4 separate regions of the Homo sapiens genome follow, and all the other regions are linked to region 2. The links come from fine-mapping of genetic effects on gene expression. A gene starts in region 2. Each other region holds a variant in brackets. All regions are shown on one strand. Distances are between the middles of the regions. Region 1 overlaps LINC01277 (long intergenic non-protein coding RNA 1277). Region 2 holds the start of AIG1 (androgen induced 1). Region 3 overlaps AIG1 (androgen induced 1). Region 4 overlaps AIG1 (androgen induced 1).

What was found. PIP is the estimated chance that this variant, and not a neighbour inherited with it, causes the effect. A credible set is the group of variants that fine-mapping cannot tell apart.
Region 1: its variant is the best candidate, but not a certain one, in a credible set for the expression of AIG1 in whole blood (TOPMed, PIP 0.59).
Region 3: its variant is the best candidate, but not a certain one, in a credible set for the expression of AIG1 in thyroid (GTEx, PIP 0.59).
Region 4: its variant is the best candidate, but not a certain one, in a credible set for the expression of AIG1 in esophagus mucosa (GTEx, PIP 0.59).

What each region holds. Positions count from the first base shown.
Region 1 is chr6:143,003,759-143,009,585 of GRCh38, forward strand. The region is part of intron 2 of LINC01277 (long intergenic non-protein coding RNA 1277); the gene reads right to left. Among named protein-coding and RNA genes, the nearest start is that of LINC01277, 31 kb to the right of the region's middle. RefSeq lists an enhancer at 1-179. The variant G/A (reference allele first, on the strand shown) is at 3,334.
Region 2 is chr6:143,058,597-143,064,423 of GRCh38, forward strand. It overlaps AIG1 (androgen induced 1), which reads left to right and starts at 2,293. Exons shown (of 6, transcript NM_016108.4): 1 at 2,293-2,470. The coding sequence starts at 2,330. RefSeq lists enhancers at 1,289-2,227, 2,053-2,182, 2,783-2,832 and silencers at 2,183-2,272, 2,523-2,592.
Region 3 is chr6:143,331,046-143,336,872 of GRCh38, forward strand. It overlaps AIG1 (androgen induced 1), which reads left to right. Exons shown (of 6, transcript NM_016108.4): 5 at 2,237-2,400. Among named protein-coding and RNA genes, the nearest start is that of ADAT2, 120 kb to the right of the region's middle. RefSeq lists an enhancer at 1,922-3,121. The variant C/T (reference allele first, on the strand shown) is at 2,641.
Region 4 is chr6:143,241,517-143,247,343 of GRCh38, forward strand. The region is part of intron 3 of AIG1 (androgen induced 1); the gene reads left to right. Among named protein-coding and RNA genes, the nearest start is that of AIG1, 180 kb to the left of the region's middle. The variant C/T (reference allele first, on the strand shown) is at 2,565.

The DNA.
Region 1 (5,827 bases), 55 kb before region 2:
ATTTTAGTTTATATCTACTAGTGATGGAAAATCTGTTTTCACGATTCACAGAGAACACCAACGCAGAATGAGCTATGGTAACGGTGGTCTAGTTTCCACAGTTTTCCAAATTATGAGGAAGTGAATGATTGCCAAGACCTCCTAACAGGCTCCAGACTACAGAGAGTTTGCAGAAGTAAAATGACAACAACAGCGGCAAAAATAAAAGACAGAGTGGATAATTTGAAAACATTACGTCCATAGTCTAGTTTATTTTAAATCCAAACAAAATTGAAAGCAAGATTTGCTTAGGATAATGTGCAAAATGGATGCACTGTATCCAAAGAATAAAGCACTATTCTATTAGAGTGAGGAACTATATTTGGAAAAGAGTAGTGTTAAAAATAACCCTAAAGGAGGAAGTCAGAAAGGAATCAGAAAGACATTTTACACAGATCAGAAGTGAAGGGTTATCAAAGATAGAAGTCCTAAGACAGCGTATAAGTGTTCTAAAATATTTAGTCTAAGACACATTTAGACAACCTCCTACATCAGGAGTACCCACCTTGTCACTCACCAGACCTATCATCTTAAGAATTATATTATATGCGGTTCGTGCAAAAGTAATTGCTGTTTTGCCATTACTTTTAATATAATATATGTAACATTATATTTATCTATATTTATTATGTATTCATACATACATATTCATAATGATAGATATAGATAAAGGTAGAAAAAGAGATATATTCACTTATAAAAGTAAATCTTGCTACATGTTATTTTTTTTAAATAAATAAATAAAATTAAATCTTTCCAACCTAGGCTATGTTGGGGTGTAACTGGTGTACAGGACAGGCACAGCCCTGCCCTCACAAAGATAGCCAAGTCAGGGAGTCAGGCTGCTAAATGGGCAATAATAACACAGACCCATGCTGGAGCAGTGCATGAGCTGTCAGAGAATCTTGGAAGGGCACTTGTTTGAGTCCTGGATAGTCAGAGGGAGATTCCCAGAGGAAATGATGTCTAAGCAGAGATCCAAAGGATGAGTTGGAATTTGCTGAGGAATGAGGGTGGCAGAGGGGCAGGAAGATTATATCCCATAGAGGTAACAACATTTAGAAAGGCCCGGAGAGGGTAAGGACTCATCAGAGAGACAAGTTCAATGTGACAAGATCAGTGGCATGGAGTGGAGTGGAAGCTACTGAGGTAAATAGGAACCAGATCATAATGAGGTGTCTTAAGGGTTTCTGCATCCTAAAAGCAATGGTGAGATTTTAAAGGGCTTGAGCAGGGAAGCAACGTAAGCAGGTGGAACATCATTCTGGCTACAGTGTGGAGAACGAATTAAAAGAAAGAAAACATATATATTGTTTGTATAGTAATGTATCTATTCAATCATTATATGTTGCTCACCTGCCTTTTCCTATTTTCTAAATCCTATGTCTTAACTGGCCAAGGTGAACCCAACATATCACTGTCTCATAAGCATTTTTAAAAGATATGCCAGTATTTCCTGATTAACATATTAGGAAAGAATGAAACAAGAACTATAGATAATAAGGCAAGATTTTAATTGATAGAGACTCTTGAAGCAATCAGAAAATAATTATAAATGCAAGATAAAGTGTCAGCTCACCTGATAGAGCTAGAGCCTTAAATAATCTTGTATCTATAATATGGGTAACAAAAATTGTAATTCATAAGAGCCCATTTTTAAAGGAATCCTGGGAAGGCCTCACGGAGGAGGTAGAATTTTTGTCTGGGTTGTTTTTAAAGGATAAGTAAGTTTAAGAAACTGAGAATGGGAAGTAGGGTGGAAGGATCTTCCTGAAAAAGGGTCAGGAGAAGACACTATACATACAAAGTGTAAGTTTTCTTTGCATCTGGGGTCACGATGCTGGACAAGTGCAGGACCCTGACTGCCACAACTCATGGCCTCCGGAATGGAGAACAATCAAGTTTTGAAGGAGGAAGGACTTCCAACTCTGCCCTAGGAAATCTAAGCTCCCTGTGACAGGTGGCATAGATTAAAGTCTGAGGACTAGTGGCAGGGAGACCAACCTAGCTTTAACTGTGCAAACACAATGTGAAAAAGGCATCAACTTGGTGGCTCAATGAATATTGGAAGGAAAGGATTTAGAGAGAATGTGAAGTGAGGGAAACTACAAGGAGGGTGAGAGAGAAGAAGCCCTTCTGAATACTTGGGAATGCTAGTTGAAAATGGGCCAGTCAGCCTTGTTCTCATGCAGAAACTATGGGGATCATGCCAAACCAACGCAAATGTCAGCATAAGTATTTGCGTCTACTAGGAATGTGAGTACTAAGTTACCAGCCCTTGTAATAAACACAATTAACAGCATGGAAGCCATTAGACTGGTTCTTGGAAAAGGGCTCATGAGAAACATTTGCTTTGAATACTTGGCTTTAGTGCTGTTAAAAAGCAGAGCAAGAGCCGGGCGTGGTGGCTCATGCCTGTAATCCTAGCACTTTGGGAGGCCAAGGCAGGCAGATCACTTGAGGTCAGGAGTTCAAGACCAGTCTGGCCAACATGGTGAGACCCCATCTCTACTAAAAATACAAAAATTAGCCAGGTGTGGTGGCATGCGCCTGTAATCCTAGCTACTTGGGAGGCTGAGACAGGAGAATCACTTGAACCCAGGAGGCGGAGGTTGCAGTGAGCCGAGATCGTACCACTGCACTCCAGCCTAGGAGATAGGAGACAGAGTGAGACTCCATCTCAAGAAAAAAAAAAAAAAAGCAGAGCTAGAAAGCTAAGTTATTGTTATTTGGCCAGGGGCTTGTTTGTATGAAGTAATAGCAAACAATCTTAATGGTTTTAAATAGCCCTGAACAATTCTCTGATTTTGAGAAAAGCTAGTGAGTACATTGTTGTCTTGATGTAAATTAGCACATGGAGCCACAGACAAAGTTGTTTTCTCCACTTTCTCCTCTGTGGTTTCTGATAATTCTGCACGTGCTTCCCTACCTGTTACCACTGGCCAAGGAAAAGCCAAAGTAATGTGTCCGTTACAGGATTCTCTTCTACATACCTAGAAGCCTTTCTGGAAAAGAGTATTCAGAGAAAAATAAGGACGAAGCAAATCACAGGGCATTACTGGCTGGGAAGCCTTGAAACTTAGTTTCCATACTAACCTTAAGAAACTGTCAATTGAGAGGCAAGTTTCTGAACAAGGTAGTAATAATGAAAATCGCATTTTAATATTTCAGTATAGTTGCTAATACAAGGTAAATGACGGGAGGGAAAGACCACAAGGATTTACAGGAGGTTCTAAGAGGAAGATGTCATTGTGAATAAAATAGAAAATGAGTGGAGTTTGAGGTTTTTTTGGC[G/A]CCTAGAAAAAGAGAAAAGAAATGGTTACAAAAGGTGTCTTAGGTAAAGAGACACCATTAGTTGAAGCTGGGCCATGTATGGGAATGCAGGGCAGGGATGAGAGGTGTGAAGACACAGGAGCTACCACAGAACAGAGTAGTGTTAATCCTGGTAATTCTCATCCACACCAGTACAGGTAGATAAAATTTAGAGATGAAAGGCCACCGTATTTAACCAGAAGAAATCACTGTTACTTTCAAATGGATAGCCAATTTGAGGAGAGTCTAAAGGGGGGTGGGGGGAAATGTTAATAGAAAGCAAAAGGATAATGAGATTACAAATAAAGATATGATGAAGGTGTGGGATTTGAAGGAAGAAAGCAACAAAATATGGCTGGACCTCAGAAGATAGTGAGGTATGTAGATGAAGGATAAATCTGATTTCAAAACCATGAGCAAAGGCCAGAATAGCTCTGGTGGTTTAACGCCCAGTGCTTTTTATTGCTTTATGAAATACAAATTGTGAAGCCTTAAAATTGTATTGCGCATAGCGAAACGTAGGGGGAGTCACCTCGGCCCACAGCCCCTCTGTCTTGTTAGTTGTTGTTGTCCCATCCATGAGAAGGACAAAGCGGTGCCATGAACACAGGGGAAGAGGAGAGACCCAGGGATGAAAGCCAGGACAGGAAAGATGAACTCAGTAATAGGAACAATGAGGAAACAGTGTGGGGAGGGAATAAACATTTATTTCCTAATACAAACCAGATGCTCTAAATATATTATCTCATTCAACCTTCACCACAGCCACGAGGAGCAGATAGATGATTGAAGAAACACGAGGTTGAGGAACTTGCCCAAGAACACAGAACTGCATTGAAGTTGAGACTCCATTCAGAACCTAATAACACAACATTCTTCTCCTCGAGATGGGAAAAATAGCACTTGTAGGATAGAAGAAACAAGAAGTTGAAAACTGAAGATGAAAGTTATTACACAGAAAAAAAAATCATAGAAACAGAATGTTGAAAACATATTAAGCCACTAGTATTCAACGTCAAGGGTGTTATTGGACTGTTATGGAAACGCCCTGGACTATTAAGATAACTATTTAAGAAAAGCTAATTTTCACACATGGAATGATCGGAAGAAACTTGTACAATCAACTGAGACATCCGATGAAAACCGTAAATAACGAGGAGAATGTCCTCTTTCCTCTGGCATAAAAATATTGCCAGATTGTGGCGACAGTTCAAAAATTTTATGAAGGAGACCCCCCCCAACCCAGCCCTGGAGAAAAGTCATCCTTCCTTTTCTTTCCCCCAGCTCCTTCTCTCAGCCAGCCCTTTCTCAGCCACTCTGATTTTGGGAAATAAAAACGGCAGGAAATTCAGTATTTGCTCTCGGCATCACTTCCTCTCTTTCCAAGCCGCCCCCCACATTTCCCATTCAATCTATGAATTATAATGTGTATCCCCATCTCATGTCCTTGAGAAAGGCTTTCAAATAAAACAAGTACTACCTGTTTTGATAAAAGTATCTCCTTCAAAAGTTATTTTCTTAAATGTCATTACCTTAAGTCTACATAGGATAAATAAATCAATAAAACACAAAATGTCTCTTCCCTGGACAAAAAAATTCTGAAAATTGTTTATTTCATGAGAAATGCATGACAGATGGTATGAGTAGTGGTGAGGCGTTCAAAACAGAACAAAGTTTCCTACTGTTCTGTCAGATGTTTCCACTCTCTGTTCCATCCATTAAACGCTGACTTATTTTTCTTCCACAAATTCAGTTTGGCTTCTAAAAAAAAAATAAATAATGCTTTGGGTATTCATTTAAGATTTTCTTATACCTTTACTGGAAACCTCAATCTGAAATGTAACCTTCACACCGCAGGGATTAAGTGGCTGGAAGCATCTGTGATAACTATCGCAGCACATAAAAAATGATGCTTATTGTTCAAGGGAGCACTCAATTACCTATGATCACTCAGATTATTAAACTGGATGCGTAGAGTGGTACATAAGTAATATTTAAATGTTTCATGGGCTGGGCATGGTGGCTCACACCTGTAATCCTAATACTTTGGGAGGCCTAGGTGGGTGGATCACTTGAGGTCAGGAGTTCCAGACCAGCCTGGCCAACATGGTAAAATCCTGTCTCTACAAAAAATACAAAAATTAGCCAGGCATGGTGGCAGGCGCCTGTAATCCCAGCTATTCGGGAGGCTGAGGCTCGAGAATTGGTTGAACATGGGAGGCGGAGGTTTCAGTGAGCAGAAATGGAGCCCCTGCACTCCAGCCTGGGGGACAGAGCAAGATGCTGACTCAAATAAATAAATAAATAAATAAGTTTCAGGAAAGAAGGTTACTGTTAAAATCCCAAATGTTCAATTTGTTAGTAATGGGTTTGCTAAAACAATACCCATATTGCCTCAAGGATGGTTCTACGAAGCTTGTCTAACCCACAGTCCACGGGCCTCATGTGGCCCAAGACAGCTTTAAATACAGCCCAA
Region 2 (5,827 bases):
TAGCCAGGTGTGGTGGCATGCGCCTGTAGTCCCAGCTACTTGGGAGGCTGAGGCAGGAGAATAGTTGAACCCAGGAGGCAGAGGTTGCAGTGAGCTGAGATCATGCCACTGCACTTCCGCCTGGGTGACAGAGCTAGACTCTGTCTCACAAAAAAACAAAAAGAAAAACAAAACAAAAAACCTGACCATTAAAAATGGCTTTATGAAAATATTATTTCATTTTGTAACAATGGGGTTGGGGAGTCTTAATAATTGTCTAACATGTAAAGTAGGAAGGGTATATCAAACTTTGCAAATATCACATTAACTCATAAAACTTTATTAAGGCTCTATTGAGAGGTGAGGCCAGCTGGACCTCCTGAGACAAGTGGGGACTTGGGGAACTTGCCTGTCTTACAAGAGGAGTGTAAAATGCACCAATCAGCGCTCTGTAAAAAGCACCAATCAGCACTCTGTAAAACACACTAATCAGCACTCTGTAAAACGCACCAATCAGCAAGATTTTAAAAGTAGCCAATCGCAGGGAGGACTGAAAAAAGGGCACTCTCATAGGACAGAAACAGAACACTGGAGAGGACAATAAGGGAATAAAAGCTGGCCACCCCAGCCAGCAGCAGCAACCCGCTCCAGTCCCCTTTCATGCTGTGGAAGCTTTGTCCTTTCACTCTTCACAATAAACCTTGCTATCGCTCACTCTGGGTCTGTGCCATCTTTAAGAGCTGTAACACTTACCACCAAGGTCTGCCGCTTCATTCTTGAAGTCACTGAGACCACTAATCTACCGGCAGGAACCAATTCCAGACACATTATTAAGGTAGGTAGATCTTCAATAGATCTACTCTTTTTTATTTTTATTTTTTTGGCAGTTTATAACCATGTACCAAGGATGCACAATTAAAAAAATAAAGCCAACTTTTACATTAAGATTTAACCAAAAATCATCAATAATACATCGTTTTAATGCTAGTAGAATCTTCTTCTGACATCAGTTCTATTAGCATAATTATAATGCCAATTAAAAAAATCTAGTGGGTCTCTTCATTTTAGTTTAGAGCTTGATTGGAAACATTCAGGAAAACATCCATGGCTTGCTTGCTACTTTCTCTTTACCTCTAGCACTATGCTTCTCCCCACCAGCCCTCCCTCCACATCCTCTGACTCAGAGACTATTTGAAGAGGACACCTGTTTTAAATGGATCCACAGGAAATACCTATGTTGCCTTTTCATAATCCGAACCTGCAACTGGTTGGCTGAAATGAAAATGTTGCCCACAGACTGATGCAACTTCAGTGTGACAACATTTACTGGAAGGCAGGAGGGACTCCAGTTTATATTTATTTTCCTTCCATTAAGCCCTGGTAGTGTAGTGTAAGAAAAAAGTAAGGGCAAAACCAGTTTAACAACCAGATGATTAGTATTAAATTACACGCAGGGGTTTTACATCCAAAATTGGAATTTTTTAAAGCTGAATGCAATCTTGTGGCAGAAAGTTATTTGAAAATCCTTTCTTTATAGCTTTTTATCTATAAACCTCTTGTCCAAAGTTCATATTCTAGCTGATGTTATATACTGATATGACATTATTCAATCTGTCATGGAAAAGTGCTGCGTAGCCTACCCATTGAAAGCAGAATTGAGAGAGTTTCCTAGTGATTGACAGTCGTTTGTCAACACTGAAAACCTTATTGCCCCAAAATACTGAAAGTCACTCGCGGCTGCCTGTGCTCGGGTTTACACCCCACGTTCACACCCCCACCGGATCCCTCCGCACGGGGCACCAGCTCTCGGCCAACTGCAACTACCCCAGGAAGCGTCACCGCGATTCCGGGGCGGGAACATTTGTGGACACTGGGGTCCACTCCTTCAGTCTAGGTTCCCCGCCCCCTCGCCCGGCCCGGCGCCCACTAGCCACAGGGCCCGCTTCCCCCTGGAGATCAGCGCGCACTTCCCGAGCCCTCGTAGCACTCAGAGGTCGCATCCACACCTGGGATGCCTAGGGGGCGCCTCCTGGCCGGGTGTCCCGGGACCCTGCGAACGCAGGAGCAGAATGACGAAGGTGACGAAAGAGATGACGACACGCCGCCTGCCAGGCCGCGGCCGGCAGTGGAGAGCGTCCGCAAACCGCGCCCGGCCAGTACAGGTCACCCGGGCGCTCGCGGCCGCGCCAGTCCCCGGGGGCGCGCGCCCCGCCCCCGCCCCCGCCCCCGCCCCGCCCCGCCCCGCGCCCGCGCCCGCGCCCGGGTTCCCACGGCGCCCGCCCCCGCGCGCCCGGCGCCTCCCTCACGCCCGCCCTCCTTGCCGCCCAGCCGGTCCAGGCCTCTGGCGAACATGGCGCTTGTCCCCTGCCAGGTGCTGCGGATGGCAATCCTGCTGTCTTACTGCTCTATCCTGTGTAACTACAAGGCCATCGAAATGCCCTCACACCAGACCTACGGAGGGAGCTGGAAATTCCTGACGTTCATTGATCTGGTAAGGCCGTCCCCTCCCCCTGCTCGCCCCGCACCCCGTGCCTGTGTGTGCGTGTGTGTGTGTGTGTGTGTGTGTGTGTGTGGATGCGCGAGCACCTGCGCACGTGCGCGCCTCCAGCATCCACCCGTGTCCTCGCCTCTTCCCCAGTGATTGCGTGTGAAGGCCTGGCTGCCCCCGCAGCGGCACCTTCTGAACCACTCACCGTTACCTGGTAGCTGGGTACCCTTACCTGGCAACTGGGGGACAAATGGAGGTGGGGCGCAGCCAGGTGGTGGGCTCTTTGGAGGGGGACACCGAACTGCTTCTAAGAGGTGACACGGGAAGAATCTTCAACAAAAGCATCGGACCTGATCCTGAATGGCCTGAGACCCATTCGCCCTCAAGGTGCTTTTCAGAGCACCCACCGTGGGATGAACTTGTTGCAACTGAAGGAAACTGGGTATTGTCTAGTGATTTGGAACTTCACCTGAAAGAACCAAATCCTTCTCATAAGGGAGAGAAAGCACCTAATAAAGTTGTCTTCTTTGCATCTGTTTTTTTCCCCCATTGTCAATAATTTACTTTCAACCTTTACCCCGTACATATTAGGAGACAGAGATGTTCAAAGTGCATTTCCAAGGTGACTGTACACACTTCTCTGTCTTCCCATGTACAAATTTACAGTAGTTTGCATAAGCAGCTCCTCTGTTGGCACAATATGATAATCTTGACAGGTGCAGGTTATTATTAGTATATCATTTTGAAAGTTTTTCTATTTCTGGCACTAAAAGGCCCTCTTCAACCTCCCTGGAGAACAGAACATGGGCATAAGGCCCAATAATGAACTCATGGATGGACCTAGGAATTTCAGGGTAAAGGTGACTAAGACACACGCTAAAAGATTATTAGGAAGAGGCTTAAAACAAAAGCAATGAAGTTCTAAAGCACTCAGAGAAATTGTAGAACCAATTCCTGGGACTCCCTGAACTGTTTATCCAAGACTATACAGTTGGTTGGCTACACCAGCAAGATTATAATCTCTTGTTGACCCTCCATTCTGATGAAGAGAACATGATACCTGTTTTAAAAATTTCCAAAGGCTTAGGATGCCTCAAAGAAATGCAGAGAGGCTTTTGGTTTAAAAATAACACCTTATATTTGCATTATATTAGATACTTTCAGAGTGGAATTTCAATTCTGTTGCCCAGCAGTCTCCAAACTGTGCACATACCCTTAGGCCCACAAGACTTCACAGGGTATAGAATGTTGCAAGGGTTTTAATTTTCAGATCCTCATCTTCCAACTCTGCTTGAAACTAATTTCCCTCTGAACATGCGTGATGCCTGCCAGTTCTCCTTTCATTCTCCCCATTCATCCAAGTGAGGAGCCCGTGACAAGACTCTGAGGTGTGCTTTTCTGTCTGTTCCTTTTAGCTTCCAGAAGATAGATGGTTGTCACCAGGGCTATCTTTATATTTGATTGAACAACAATGTCGGAGTTGCCTTGACAGAAAGTCTTATTGGGTTGATTGGCTTGTCAATGAGGATTGGCTTTGCCAATTATGTTGTGTAGCAGACATTTTCTGTATACTGAATGAGCTAAATCTGCAACCCTGAGGTTCTGATGCATATGTATATGAAGCAAGCATACCACCCATAGAGCGCCAGAAAGATGTCCCTTTTTCAAGTGTTTACACTTAACTATGTTAAGGATGTTGAGATGTTATTTAAAAATATGTGCATAGATTTTCAGAATTCTTTGAGGGGCTATGTGAGCAAAACTCCTTTTGGGACACTGCCTTATCCCATTCCTAAGTCAGATCTTACTTAGAGCTGGCCTATTTGAATGTTGCTAAAGAGCAGTGCTGGGCAAGAATACAGAGATGCTGTGGGAGCCATAGGTTCTAGAAACAGCCCTCAGCATCACTCTTGCAGTAGATGCTGTGTTGTGGGAGCAAGGCAGGGGTCAGCAGGTGAACAGAGGTAGAAATTGAGGGTGTTGGTTAACCCAAGAGATGCCTGCTTTTCATAATTAGCATTGCTTACTGTGCATTGAAAAACAAGGCTCAGAAGAAATGATATACCTCTCATAACCTTTGTGTGACATGAAACCATAGTAGAGTCAGCTTGATATGCTGTCATATAATTTATCTTTTAGCATTCAATGATTGGACTTGCCTGTTTTAAATACTAATCACCATACAGGACTTTTTCTATCCCAGAAGTCAGACAGTAGATTCAAATGTGAAACATTTACTTTGCTTCATATTTAGCTTCAGATTGTATAGGACCTTTAGCCAGCGTTGTAATTTTTTACTCTGTGGCTCCTGATTGAAACATAATAATTATCTTTAACAAAGAGTGCCTGTGAGAAAGTATGTCTGAGATATATTCATAAAAACATTCATGCAAAGTGTTATTCTTTTTATTATTTGAGATTTAGAATCCTTAGAGCTTAAGCATTGTACAGCTGTTAAAACAACCAACCTGTCAATCCTCAGTAATGGCATGAAATGATTAGGCTACTATAATTTAGCCATTTTACTTTTCACTTTTAATGTTAAAAAGACCGTAAACTTTATTACCTAGTGCCTTGTACAATATTAATGAGTCTAAGTTTATTGGAGTAATTTTGCAAGAGTTTAACTTTTTAAAATTGTAATGTGAAGGCCCTTTTTTCTAGCCAACTTGGATTGCAGGAATCATTTATCCTGATAGCCACAGTTGGATTCCATATTCCATGGCTTCAGTTTACCAGGATCTGAGTCAGGAATCTCAGGCTCTATGCATCCAGGAGCAGATGATTATGTGGCAGTGGCCATTCTGGCTGTATTCATTTCTCTCCTTGGGTATGAGGGTCATTCCAGTAGATTCAGAGCTTATGGTCAAAAACTGAAATACACATTGTTGCTACCAGTAATCTTATACTGTTATTCTCCAATGGTTTCTTTTCCTAGTATTGAGAAACTGTAAGAGAACTAAGGTGTTTTTGGAAAATTGAAGTTAGTAAATGGAAAAAGAACACTGTCTTGGTGTGGTAGGCAGAATAATGGGCCTCCAAAGATGTTTACATTCTCATGCCAGGAACCTGTGAATACATTAGGTTACATGGCAAAGGGAAATTAAAGTTGCAGATGGAATTAAGATTGCAAATCAATTGACCTTAAAATAGGGTAATTATCCTGAGTTATCCCATTGGGCCCAATGTAATTACAAGGGTCCTTAAAAGGAATAGGGAAACAGAAGACAAGAGCTTGTTGGAGGAAGATGTGACTGGAAGAAAGTCAGAGAGAGATACGACAATGCTGGGTTTGAAGATGGAGGATGGAGCCAGGAGACAAGGGGTGTGAGAGGTGTCTAGAAGCTGGAGAGGACAAAA
Region 3 (5,827 bases), 270 kb after region 2:
ACCTGGACAGACCTAGAGAATGCCTCTTTGCTGTAAGATTGTTCCTCAATCTTTCTTTCATTACTACTTCCCTCTACCAAGGAACCTTTGTAGACCTGTTTTTTTTTTCCTAATTTCCACCACAGGAACATTTTTTATTGTGCTAAAATATACATAACATAATATTTGTCATTTTAGCTATTTGCAAGTATACTATTTAATGTCCTTAAATGTATTTACAACATTGTGTAACCATCACCAGTATCTATACCCAAAATTTTCTCATCATCCCCCCACATAAACTCTGTTCCCGTTAAACAATAACTCCCTATTCTCCACTCCCCCGAGTCCCTGGTAACTGATAGATACCATGCTTTCTGTCTCTGTGAAATTGCCTATTCTAGGTACCTCATATAAGTGGAATCATATACAATATGTGACCTGTGTCTGGCTTATTTTGCTTAGCATAATGTTTTCAAGGTCCATCCATGTTGTAGCATGTATCAACATTTTACTCCTCTTTATGGCTGAGTAATATTCCATTGCATGCATATGCCACATTTGATTGTTTGTTCACCTACTGATGTGTTTCTATATACATATATGTACATCTGTGTGTGTGTATATATGTGTGTGTGTATATGTGTGTGTGTGTGTATCTGTGCTTTCTACATAAAAAGTGCAAAATTGTTTTACCACCAACCCCAGAATGAATTTTCGCCTGCAAGAAGAGGGGGGATCTCACCCTCATTGATAACGCAGGTTCTCAGGTATAGATCCCCAGGTTTCCTGCCAAAAATGAGGTACATGTGTAGGTAATGTTTATTATTATTATTATTATTATTATTATTATTATTATTATTTTGAGACCAAGTCTCACTTTGTCACCCAGGCTGGAGTGCAGTGGTGTGATCTCAGCTCACTGCAACCTCTGCCTCCCAGGGTCAAGTGATGCTTGTGCCTCAGCCTCCCGAGTAGCTGGGATTACAGGCGCGCACCACCACGCCCAGCTAATTTTTGTATTTTTAATAGAGATGGGGTTTCGCCATGTTGGCCAGGCTGGTCTTGAACTCCTGACCTCAGGTGACCCACCCTCCTCAGCCTCCGAAAGTGCTGAGATTACAGATGTGAGCCACTGCACCCTGTCAGTAATATTTATATGTAGATAAACCACTTAGAGTGAAGCCAAGGATAAGGAAAATGACCTCAGAACACATAAGTATGAAAAGTCATCTTTATTCCCAATGCAATAGAGTTATCTGTATTTTATTTAGTCTTCACAATTGCCAACAGTTTATAAAGGAATGAACTCAAGAATGTTTGGAAAACAGCTGTAAGCAGTCATGTCAGGACCAAGCCAATGGAGCCGATATTCTAACTAAACTTTTGAAAGCAGTGGCAATTCATGATGTTACTATTCCCACTGAGTCAAAAATATTTCTGGAACACAAAGAGAATGATTAAGTAAGAATGTAAAATAGGAAAAAAAATGAAATCAATGTCACATCTGAAGATCAGAGGAGTGGGAAGCTGGTACCTGCTAGGGTATGCATGGTTGTGTCAGCATATGGCATGAGTGTTGGTGTCTAGTTGGAAGGCCATATGGCAAGGTATCTGGCACAGACTCACCTAGGTCTTATTCTCCTGTGGTTGCCCAATGCCATATTGTCTCATTCTGTAAAGAAGAGATTTAAAAGATTGTTGAACAGTGTTAATAAAGTCAGCCATTTCAAATACATGACCAGATTGTTTAACAGTGTTAATAAAGTCAGCCATTTCAAATACCCTTCAAATATCATCAAAGACAAGTAGAGACTGAGAAACTGCCAGAGTATGAGACTGCGGAGATGTGAAGACTGAAGACCACATGGGGTCCTGGATTGGATCCTGGAACAGAGAAAGGACATTCACAGGAATACTGGGAAATTCTGAATAAAGCCTATAATTTAGTACTGTCATATCAATGTTAATTTTTTAATTTTAGTCAATTGTCCCAGGATTATACAAGATGTTAACATGAGGGGAAGCTGAGTGTGTTGTGCTTCTTCTGTGAGTCTAAAATTATTTCAGAATAAAAAGTAAATGAAAATAAACAGCAACCAAGTTTCCAGTAGCTCCTGAGTATCAGAAGCGAACTTGAGACTGGCAAATGCTGAAGCATGGGGAGAGTGAGGGAGTGTATATTTGCATCATAGCAGCTTTGATGCCTGCCATAAGAGTGACTCCTGTCCTTGTCTCCTTTCCGATTCTTTTGCAGGGTGTGCTGGGTGCATCATGTAACTGGCATGTGGGTGTACCCTTTCCTGGAACACATTGGCCCAGGAGCCAGAATCATCTTCTTTGGGTCTACAACCATCTTAATGAACTTCCTGTACCTGCTGGGAGAAGTTCTGAACAACTATATCTGGGATACACAGAAAAGTAAGTATTGTCTGAGGGAACATAAAACAAGAGAATTACTGCCGGCAACAGTCTATGCAGAGACTGAGGGAAAATTCCACTGTAGCCTCTTCTTTTAGCCTTCACACAGGATCTCCTATAAAGAGCTCCATTTTTAAAACTACAATATGAATTTAAGAGCTGCTGACAGTTACCTGAAAGTTTTACTAGTCACTTGGTCTTGTTAGCTAGTAAAACCTCCAAATCTAAAGAGGAAAGAGG[C/T]ATGTCTATAAAATTTTATAGGGAAAAATGTAGTGTTAGCAAAAAATATATATTAGGGAAATTTGTCCTCATTAACAACACAATGCTGCCTTAGTTAGCTAAAGGGACCTCAAATTAAATAGATACATTATTAAATGTAACCAATCTCCTTTAAAGTCACCCAGATCTCCACTTTCTATGTGGGTGCAGTCACCTGGGAGAGGTCTTACTACCATTCTGCTAGAGCTCTATCTAAGCAGTGTGTGATGCTCCGGCCACCTTGACTCACCAGTGGCTGTCACGGAAAGTCTGAAAGTGGCAAAGAGCTACAAGCAGTAAAAGATAATATTTCGTGGCTGGAAAAACTCTTTTAACCTGTGATTTGATTTCTCTTTTGTTTCCATTTATGGCAGAGCCTCCATCTTGGCAAGGCACGTAATCTTATCCAAGCTGTGCAAAACCTGTCCAAAGTGTATGTACAATAACATAAAAATTGAAAGGTGGAAAAAGCGCCAGCACAGACATGTAGTGATTGAGTCCTGCATGAAAATACATCCAAAGGCAAGATGGTTTGGAGATTTTAGGAAGCCCTGGCTCTTTCCTCTGACACAATCACAGCATTCTAGACATCCCCAGTAAATGGACTCTGTGACACAGACATTGAGCACCCTGCTTTGTGCCAGACACCCTGCCAGGAGCTCAATGGAATCAGACAAATAACGCACAGTGAGTGCATGGTTACTGTGCATGGTTACTGAATCAGACTTTTGTGTGTGTGGATCCTCTAAGATTGTATGTGTCAGGGTATTAGCCAATGTTAAATGGCGCAGAGGAATTTGAGGGTTTCTTTTCTCATCAGCTTTTGATTTTAATCAATGTTCTATTAGAAAAAGTATCAACATTTTTAATTCTGTTCAGGCCACAGCTTGGGGAACAAGACACTAATCTTTTAATAATGTTCCACCTGTTCAATGGAAATAGTGATCTTTCTCCATTAATTTACAGAAGTATTTAGTTACTTGACAAAAATATTTTGAGAACAAAATATAAACCTTTCTCAGCTTCTTGGAAGAAAAACTGTATTTAAACTTAAACGAATGTGTCCAATATATGTTATTCAGGAAGTACTTAAGTACCTGCTTACACTTGACTTGATTGATTTGACAGTCATTTGGCCACAGTTCTACTACTTCTATGAGAGGATGACCTGAAAACCACTAGAGAGAAATATCCACTCTACATTAATAGAATACTGCTTTTTAGCAGCTTTGAATGAGGAGTTAAAAATGAATAATGAAATTAAGGTTTTTTGAATGATTTGTTTAATTTATGCCATTCTTTTAAGTAACATAAGATTGACTAACTTTTTTTAAAAATTCATTTTAGATATGAAAATTAAGTTTATGTACCTAGGACCATCTAGTTAGTTCCACAAAGACAGATGTTTTGTGCCAAGTAAGTATCATCCTCATTTACAAGAGGGGTCACAAACTGCTGGCCTCCCCCAACTTCTACCTATCAAGTTCTGTTAGGCCTACATCGTGGAATTTTTGTTTTTGAATCAGTATTTTAAAATTGGGTGATTTTGGCTGGGCGCAGTGGCTCATGCCTGTAATCCCGGCACTTTGGGAGACTGAGGCAGGTGGATCACGAGGTCAAGAGATGGAGACCATCCTGGCCAACATGGTGAAATCCCATCTCTACTAAAAATACAAAAATTAGCCAGGCATGGTGGCGTGTGCCTGTAGTCCCAGGTACTCGGGAGGCTGAGGCAGGAGAACTGCTTGAACCCAGGAGGCAGAGGTTGCAGTGAGCTGAGATCATGCCACTGCACCCCAGCCTGGCAACAGAACAAGACTCCATCTCAAAAAAAAAAAAAAAAAAAATAGGAGATTTCACATGAAGGCCAGATTTTCAGCTTCTTAGGAAATATTTTAAGATCTGGAACACAGAGCCCACTGTTCTATTCTGGTGACAATGGTTTAGAATAGAGTATCAGTTATCCCTTGGCTGGGCACGGTGGCTTACACCTGTAATCTCAGAACTTTGGGAGGCTAAGGTGGGCAGATCACTTGAGCCCAGGAGTTCAAGACCAGTCTGGCCAACATTGCAAAACTCCATCTCTACTAAACATACAAAAATGAGCCGGGCGTACATGCCTGTAATCTCAGCTACTTGGGAGGCTAAGGCACGAGAATCGCTTCAACCTGGAGGCAGAGGTTGCAGTGAGCCAAGATCGTGCCACCACACTCCATCCTGAGCCACAGAGTGAAACTCTCAGAAAAAAAAAAAAAAAACAGAAAGAAAAGAAAAAAGAATTGAGTATCAGTTATCCACTTTAGATGACTAACTTTCCCTCGTTCTCACCTGGCCACTTTACTCAGTCACATTAGCTGCCTGATTCTGTTAGCTGTTGAGTCAAAAACTACTCACTAAAAGCAGTGTGTTAGGATGAATTGAGGACATGGGAGTACAGTACTACAATCCTGAGTATTTCACATCAGTTACTATACAATCCCCCAAGAAGAAGGAAGATTGCATTGGAGCCACCCTCCTTTTTCCATAATGGTTTTTAATAGCTCAACTCTGTCTACTTGGGTAACTTATGTTAGCTACAACTTCAAGATAAAAATCACATTATTGCAGAATCTTACTGCTGAAAGAGAGATTGGAAATCATCGAAACCGACCCTTTCCTTTCACCAAAAGTAACTGAGGCCCCAAAATCTTAAGTGACCCTCCAGAACAGGTGATGGCAGAGCCAGTGCCTTCTAACTGATGTTCAGTCCAGTCTCCAAATTTCCCCTTTGTATAAGAATACCAGTTGTATTTGATTAGGGCCCACCCTGATGACCTCATTTGTAAATACTTATCTCCAAGTAAAGTCACATTCTGACTTTAAAACCACATCCTGGGGGTTAGGATTTCAGCATATGAATTTGGAAGTGGGGGACAGAGTTCAGCTCATAATACTTCACTCTCTCCCCACCAGAATACATGTCCTTCACCCAATGAAAATATTCCATCCCAACAACCCCAAACGTCTTTCAGACATCAACTCTCAAGTCCAAAATCTCATCTTAAATATCATAAAATTGGGTATGCGTGACACTCAGGGTATGAGTCATCCTGAAGCAAAATTGTTCTCTAGCTGTGTGTGAACCTGGGAAACCAGACAAAAAGTTATCTGCTTCCAAAACAGAATGGTG
Region 4 (5,827 bases), 180 kb after region 2:
TAAACTTCCTATCAAAAGCTTCACTTTGTACTTCATTTTATTTAACAAATACTTCCACTGTGCTCACTGTGTGTCAGGCACTGTTCTAAGGAATTTGCAAACATCAACTCATTATAATACTCAGGAAAACCCTGTGGGTGGGTTCTGTTTTTCTCCCTATTTTATAGGTGAGGGAACTGAAGCACAGAGCATTTAAGCAATGCAAGTCGAGCATCCCTAATCTGAAAACCTAAAATCTGAAATGCTCGCTCCCAAACCCAAAACTTTTTGAGAACTGATAAGACACCCCAAGTGGAAAACTTCACATGGAGATACCTAACACAAACTTTGTTTTATGCACAAAATTGTTTAAAATATCATGTAAAGTTACCTTCAGGCTGTGTGTATAAGGCATATGTAAAAAATAAATGAATTTCATGTTTAGATTTGGGTCCCATCGCCAAGATATTAGGTGTATGTAAATATTCCAAAATTCAAACTGCTTATGGTCCCAAGCATTTTGGATAAGGGATACTCAACCTGTGTATCCCTAAGTCACACAGCTGTGTTTTGATCTCTGTCGACACGTCTCCCCCTCCAGGATAAAGAGGAAAAGCAGTAGGGAGAAGGGCTTAGAATGAGCACGAGCAATAGCAATGTAAGGAGAAGTTATCCTCAGGCCAGGAGAAGCAAGAACGCAGCCAAATTTCAGAAACAACAAGGGATTCTAGTCACTGGCAAGAGAAAACAAACTGAAGACTGAGTGGCAGGGTTGCTGTGTAATATGAGGAAAATAGAACCCAAGCCACTATATTTCATGACCAAGCTCAAATTAGCGGACGTGATAACCCTTCTATAATAACAACCATAATAATAAAATAGCTATGCTTTTTGAAACTCTACTGTATGGCAGTTTTTATATGTAACTTTGTTTAATCCCCACAACTATATGGGGAAGGGGGCATTATCCCCATTTTTCAGATGAAAAAGTTAATCAAAGTACAAAGAGGTAAAATCACATGACCATAATCTCACAGCTAGTTATTGGCAGAGCCAGTATCGACATCCATTTCTGTCTAACTCTAAACCATGGGTTGTTTTGATGCAGCCACGTTGTTAGAGTTAGTGACCCAGTGCCATTATAGGGGTGCTTAGGAGAATCCTAAATCCATATGCTGAGTCACCACATGCCCAAGAAGTCTCAGAAAGATGGCACCTACAGATAAACCTAAATTAGTTTTTTTAAGCTTGGAAAATCCAAGAAAGATAAACTTAGCACCCATTAGCCTGACACAAAACACTTCCATTTTTTACAAATAGTAATGTTTCATGCATCTCTGCAGGAAGTGCATGCGACATCATGGCTGCGGATATGCCCCCATGGAGAGCCCTTGCTGGTCCTGGGGTATTTGTCTCTCTTATCCCAGGTTGCGTGTGGTTGTAGAAGGTGAAGTGCTGTTACTGAGACTAGCGCCTATCTGATGGCCTATATGAATGACCCACTAGAGTTATTGGGTTCTGCCAACATTATTTCCATCCTAGATCTACAAAATGTTTGTGGGCAGATAGAGCTGGTTCCTGAGATCAGGCTAGACGGTGTTTTTCATACTCCACAAGGCTTATATAAATTCACTATCTTCCTTTTAGAAAAAAATCCTTGGTCCAACTTCTTTTCAGTACTTGATAAATAATCAGTTGATGATGTGGGAACATTTGCAGCTGGGTATGTAGGTGCTAAAGCCTTATTACATGCAGAGTTGGAATTATAATAAGACATTCACCACTTATCTAAAACAATTCAAGAGGACAATAAAAGATAAATAATTCTAGAATGCATCATCAGGAGTGATATTCTTTCTATGCCAAATGAGATTATGAAAATAACACTAATAGAAGTTTCAAAAAAAGGAAGCCTGTACATTCTTGGAATTAGCAAGGTGCTTCCCATAATTATACACTTGCTTGGAACCCTAGCCTTTTATTTTTTTCATTGAATAGCCTCCCAGTTAAAAATAACCCAATAAAGTATCATAGACTACAAAATGCCCGGAATCTTTTTACCAGGTGACATCTCATCTTTCAAGATATCTGATCTTAAGTCACCCCAAATTAACTTGTACATTTTATTTGGCAGTAGACAGTGGTAACATAGGTATTGTTAAAGTATTGATATAGGACAGTGGAGGAAGGAGACTTTCGATGAATTGATCAAGAAGAAAAAGAACTCTGTGTTGCCACCTGGTTATGGTTCAGAAGTATTGCCCTGAACTGCCATACTACCACTGAGGGTGAAATAGGAAAACATATCCCAACATTATCAAGCACACACCTCTATGGGAAGACTGCATATGTGGCACTCATACCTCATCTCCCCTCCTGCTGCCAATACAGACATAGCTAATCCATCACAACACTCTTTCCTGCCAGGCCTAGATTTGCCATCAAAATCCTTCTCACCTCAGTGCTTCAGGCAGGTCCTTTCAAGCCATGACAGCTGGGTCATGAGTTGAAACCTGTTTACTTTCTATGATCAGCACTAGTAACGCAAAGATGAGTACACATGACACCTGCCCTCAAATAGCTGG[C/T]AGATTATTGAGGGAATCATACCCAGCAGCAGTTATAATATTGTGAGATAAAATGATAGAATGTATATGTTAAATGGTACTGGAAGACAGAAGGAGGAATAACTATTCCTGAAGGAGGTAAGGAGTGTTTCCCGGAGGAAATGAACACAGACGAGATTGGCAGGATGTGGGAGTTCCCTTATCAATCAAGGTAGACAAGGGGTGGAGGTAAATGGCATGGACTTTGCAGGTGCTTCCCCAGCCTAGGGGCTGAGTGGAGGAATAGCAAGAGGTTGGGGGGCAGCCTCAGGTCAAGACCTTGACCTCTTTGATTGCTAGGTAAGATGTTAAGGGTTTTTCTTGCAGAAAAAATCCCAGTCTAAGGTATGTAAACCCCTTGGGGGCCATGAGATTATTCCAAGGGCTGCATGAATTCACAGCACACTGAGTAGGCTCTGATAACGTACTAAATGGATCACATGGGTATGGGCTTTAATAATGTCACTGCTGAGAATGCACTATATACTTGTAGCAGATGATATAGCAAAGAGAAGGCTTTCACCTTCAATGGTTTGCTCTGAAGTTTCATAAACAAAACACTGTGAGCATCAAGGTATAGTCTGGAGAGCTGATTTAACTGCAAAGAGGTGCTGTCTGTGCAGGCTCTTTAGAGAAATCTTGGGATCTCAGTGTCTTATCAGGTGTTTTGTGATATGTTACAATATCAAGTTAATTCCTCTTTTTTTGAAAAATGTATAAATTCAGCTTGGGGTTCACAAGCTCCAAGCTATGTTACCACTAAAGCCTTTCTCACAACCCAAAGCACTTGAACTTACCTTCACTCTCTGAGAGGTCATTATATTTAAATAGCTACTCTAAGAAGGAAATATGCTCAGTCCTTCATTTGAACAACAGTTTAACCTTCAAAGTAGAAAAACAAAACAAATCTGTAATATCCCTGTCACTAAATCAGCATCATTAAGGATCAGCAGCCATTGTCTCTTTTAGTTGGAGAACGGTGGGTCACCCATCTCGAAGCCCAGTTAATGAACAAGGGTTTATTCAGTAAAACATTGAACATTACCCAAGTTAATATTATAATAATCTCTTATATTAGTAGAGTATAGTTGGCAAAACACTTTCTCTCACATACATTATATCATTTGATGCTTACAATAACCATTCAAGGTAGATGGAAGGTATTATTCAGTTTATTTCAGTGGAAAGTCCTACCACTATCCAAAGTCTGAATTTCTTTTTTAACAAATACAGAAGTATACAAAAAGAAAAAGCAACACAGCTTCCAGAGAAGATTTTGAGTGTGTAGAGTTTCATGGTGATTTGATTTTTTCCCCTGAGGCTCTGCACTAAATTTACTGCTTCTTTCATTTTATTGATACCATAATGGAATTTGATACACTCTAATTCAGAAACTGAAATGTTTATTCATTTCATATGTCAGTACAAAAATCCAATCAAGAATAAATATTGCCCCTCCCAAAGCTACAGTCATACAGAATGATAATTGCTTTGAAAAGAAATAAACAAGTTTGGGATGAGGGTGCTGAAGCAGTCCCAAAAGTGGGGCTCTTCATCCAGCTTTTTCCTACAGAATCATTTCAGTGTTTCTATCCTGTAAGGAAAAACACTGGAAACTTGATGTTTTTTGCTCTCATTTATTGAACACTTTCCTTGGGAGCCTGCAAACATCATCTGTAATCCTTACAGCAACGCATAGTTGGTGAATTCCTTCAGCAGAGGTATTTTATGAGGCGGTATAGCTTATCAGCTAAAAGCAGAGGCTTTCAAGACATATGGGTGTGTGTTCAGGTCACAAAGATCGGGGTTTAGGGCACGGTTGTCCCATCTTTTGGCTTCCCTGGGCCACATTGGAAGAAGAATTGTCTTGGGCCGCACATAAAATACACTAACACTAACAATAGCTGTTGAGCTTAAAAAAAAGTTGCAAAACAAATCTCCTCACGTTTTAAGAAAGTTTAGAAATTCGCTTTGGGTCACATTCAAAGCCATCCTGGGCTGCAGGTGGGACAAGCTTGGTTTAGGGCCTCACTTCTGCTCCTAATTGACTCAACTTAGGTAAACTACCGAAGCCCTCTAAGTTTCATTCAGTTTCCTCTTACAGTTAATTAGGAATTGTATTCATTTGTTTTCACACTGCTGATAAAGACATACCTGAGACTGGGCAATTTACAAAAAAAAAAAAGAGGTTTAATGGACTTACAGTTCCACGTGGCTAGGAAGGCCTCACAATCATCGTGGAAGGCAAGGAGGAGCAAGTCACATCTTACATGGGTGGCAGCAGGCAAAAAGAGAGCCTGTGCAGGGAAACTCCCCCTTATAAACCCATCAGATCTCATGAGACCCATTCACTATCACAAGAACAGCACAGGAAAGACCTGCCCCCATGATTCAATCACCTCCCACTGGGTCCCTCCCACAACACATGGCAATTTAAGATGAGATTTAGGTGGAGACACAGCCAAACCACATCAGGAATTAAATGAGACAATCTGCTTGAGCCATTCACCACAGAAATTTGCATTGAATGATAAGTAAATGTTTGTGTGTGGAGTTCATAAAATAATAGCCAACATTTACTGAGCACTTACATACCGTGTAATGTTCTGTGTGTTTTACATATAAAAACTCATGTAATCCTCTTGACAGCCAGTGAGAGAATGCAAAAGGTTTAGCCAACTATGAACAAAAGAACTAACTGTGAAATTAGAAGGAATAATGTCCTCATTTCACACCAATTGCTAGTTCAGGGGTTCCCAAAACACTCTCGGCTTCAAAAATAGAACAGAAAAAAAGGACTCACAGAACCCACTGGAAGCTGTTATATTCATGGCTATGGTTTATGACAGGAAAAGGATACAGAATAATGTCAGCCAAGGGAAGAGGCTCATACAGCAGAGCCTGGAAGGGGCTCAGATGTGCTTCCAGTTGTTCTGTCCCCATGGAGTTATAGGGCATTAACTCCTCTCTGTGATGCTGTGTGATAATATGGATGAAATATTGTCAACCAGGGAAGCTCACCTGGGCTTTGGTGTCCAAGATTTTTTTTTTTTAGACAGCATCTCACTCTGTCGCCAGGCTGGAGTGCAATGGCACAATCTTGGCTCACCACAACCTCCGCCTCCTGGGTTCAGGCGATTCCCCTGCTTCAGCCTCCCAAGTAACTGGGACTACAAGTGCACGCCACCATGCCCAGCTAATTTTTTGTATTTTAGTAGAGACGGGGCTTCCCCATGTTAGCCAGG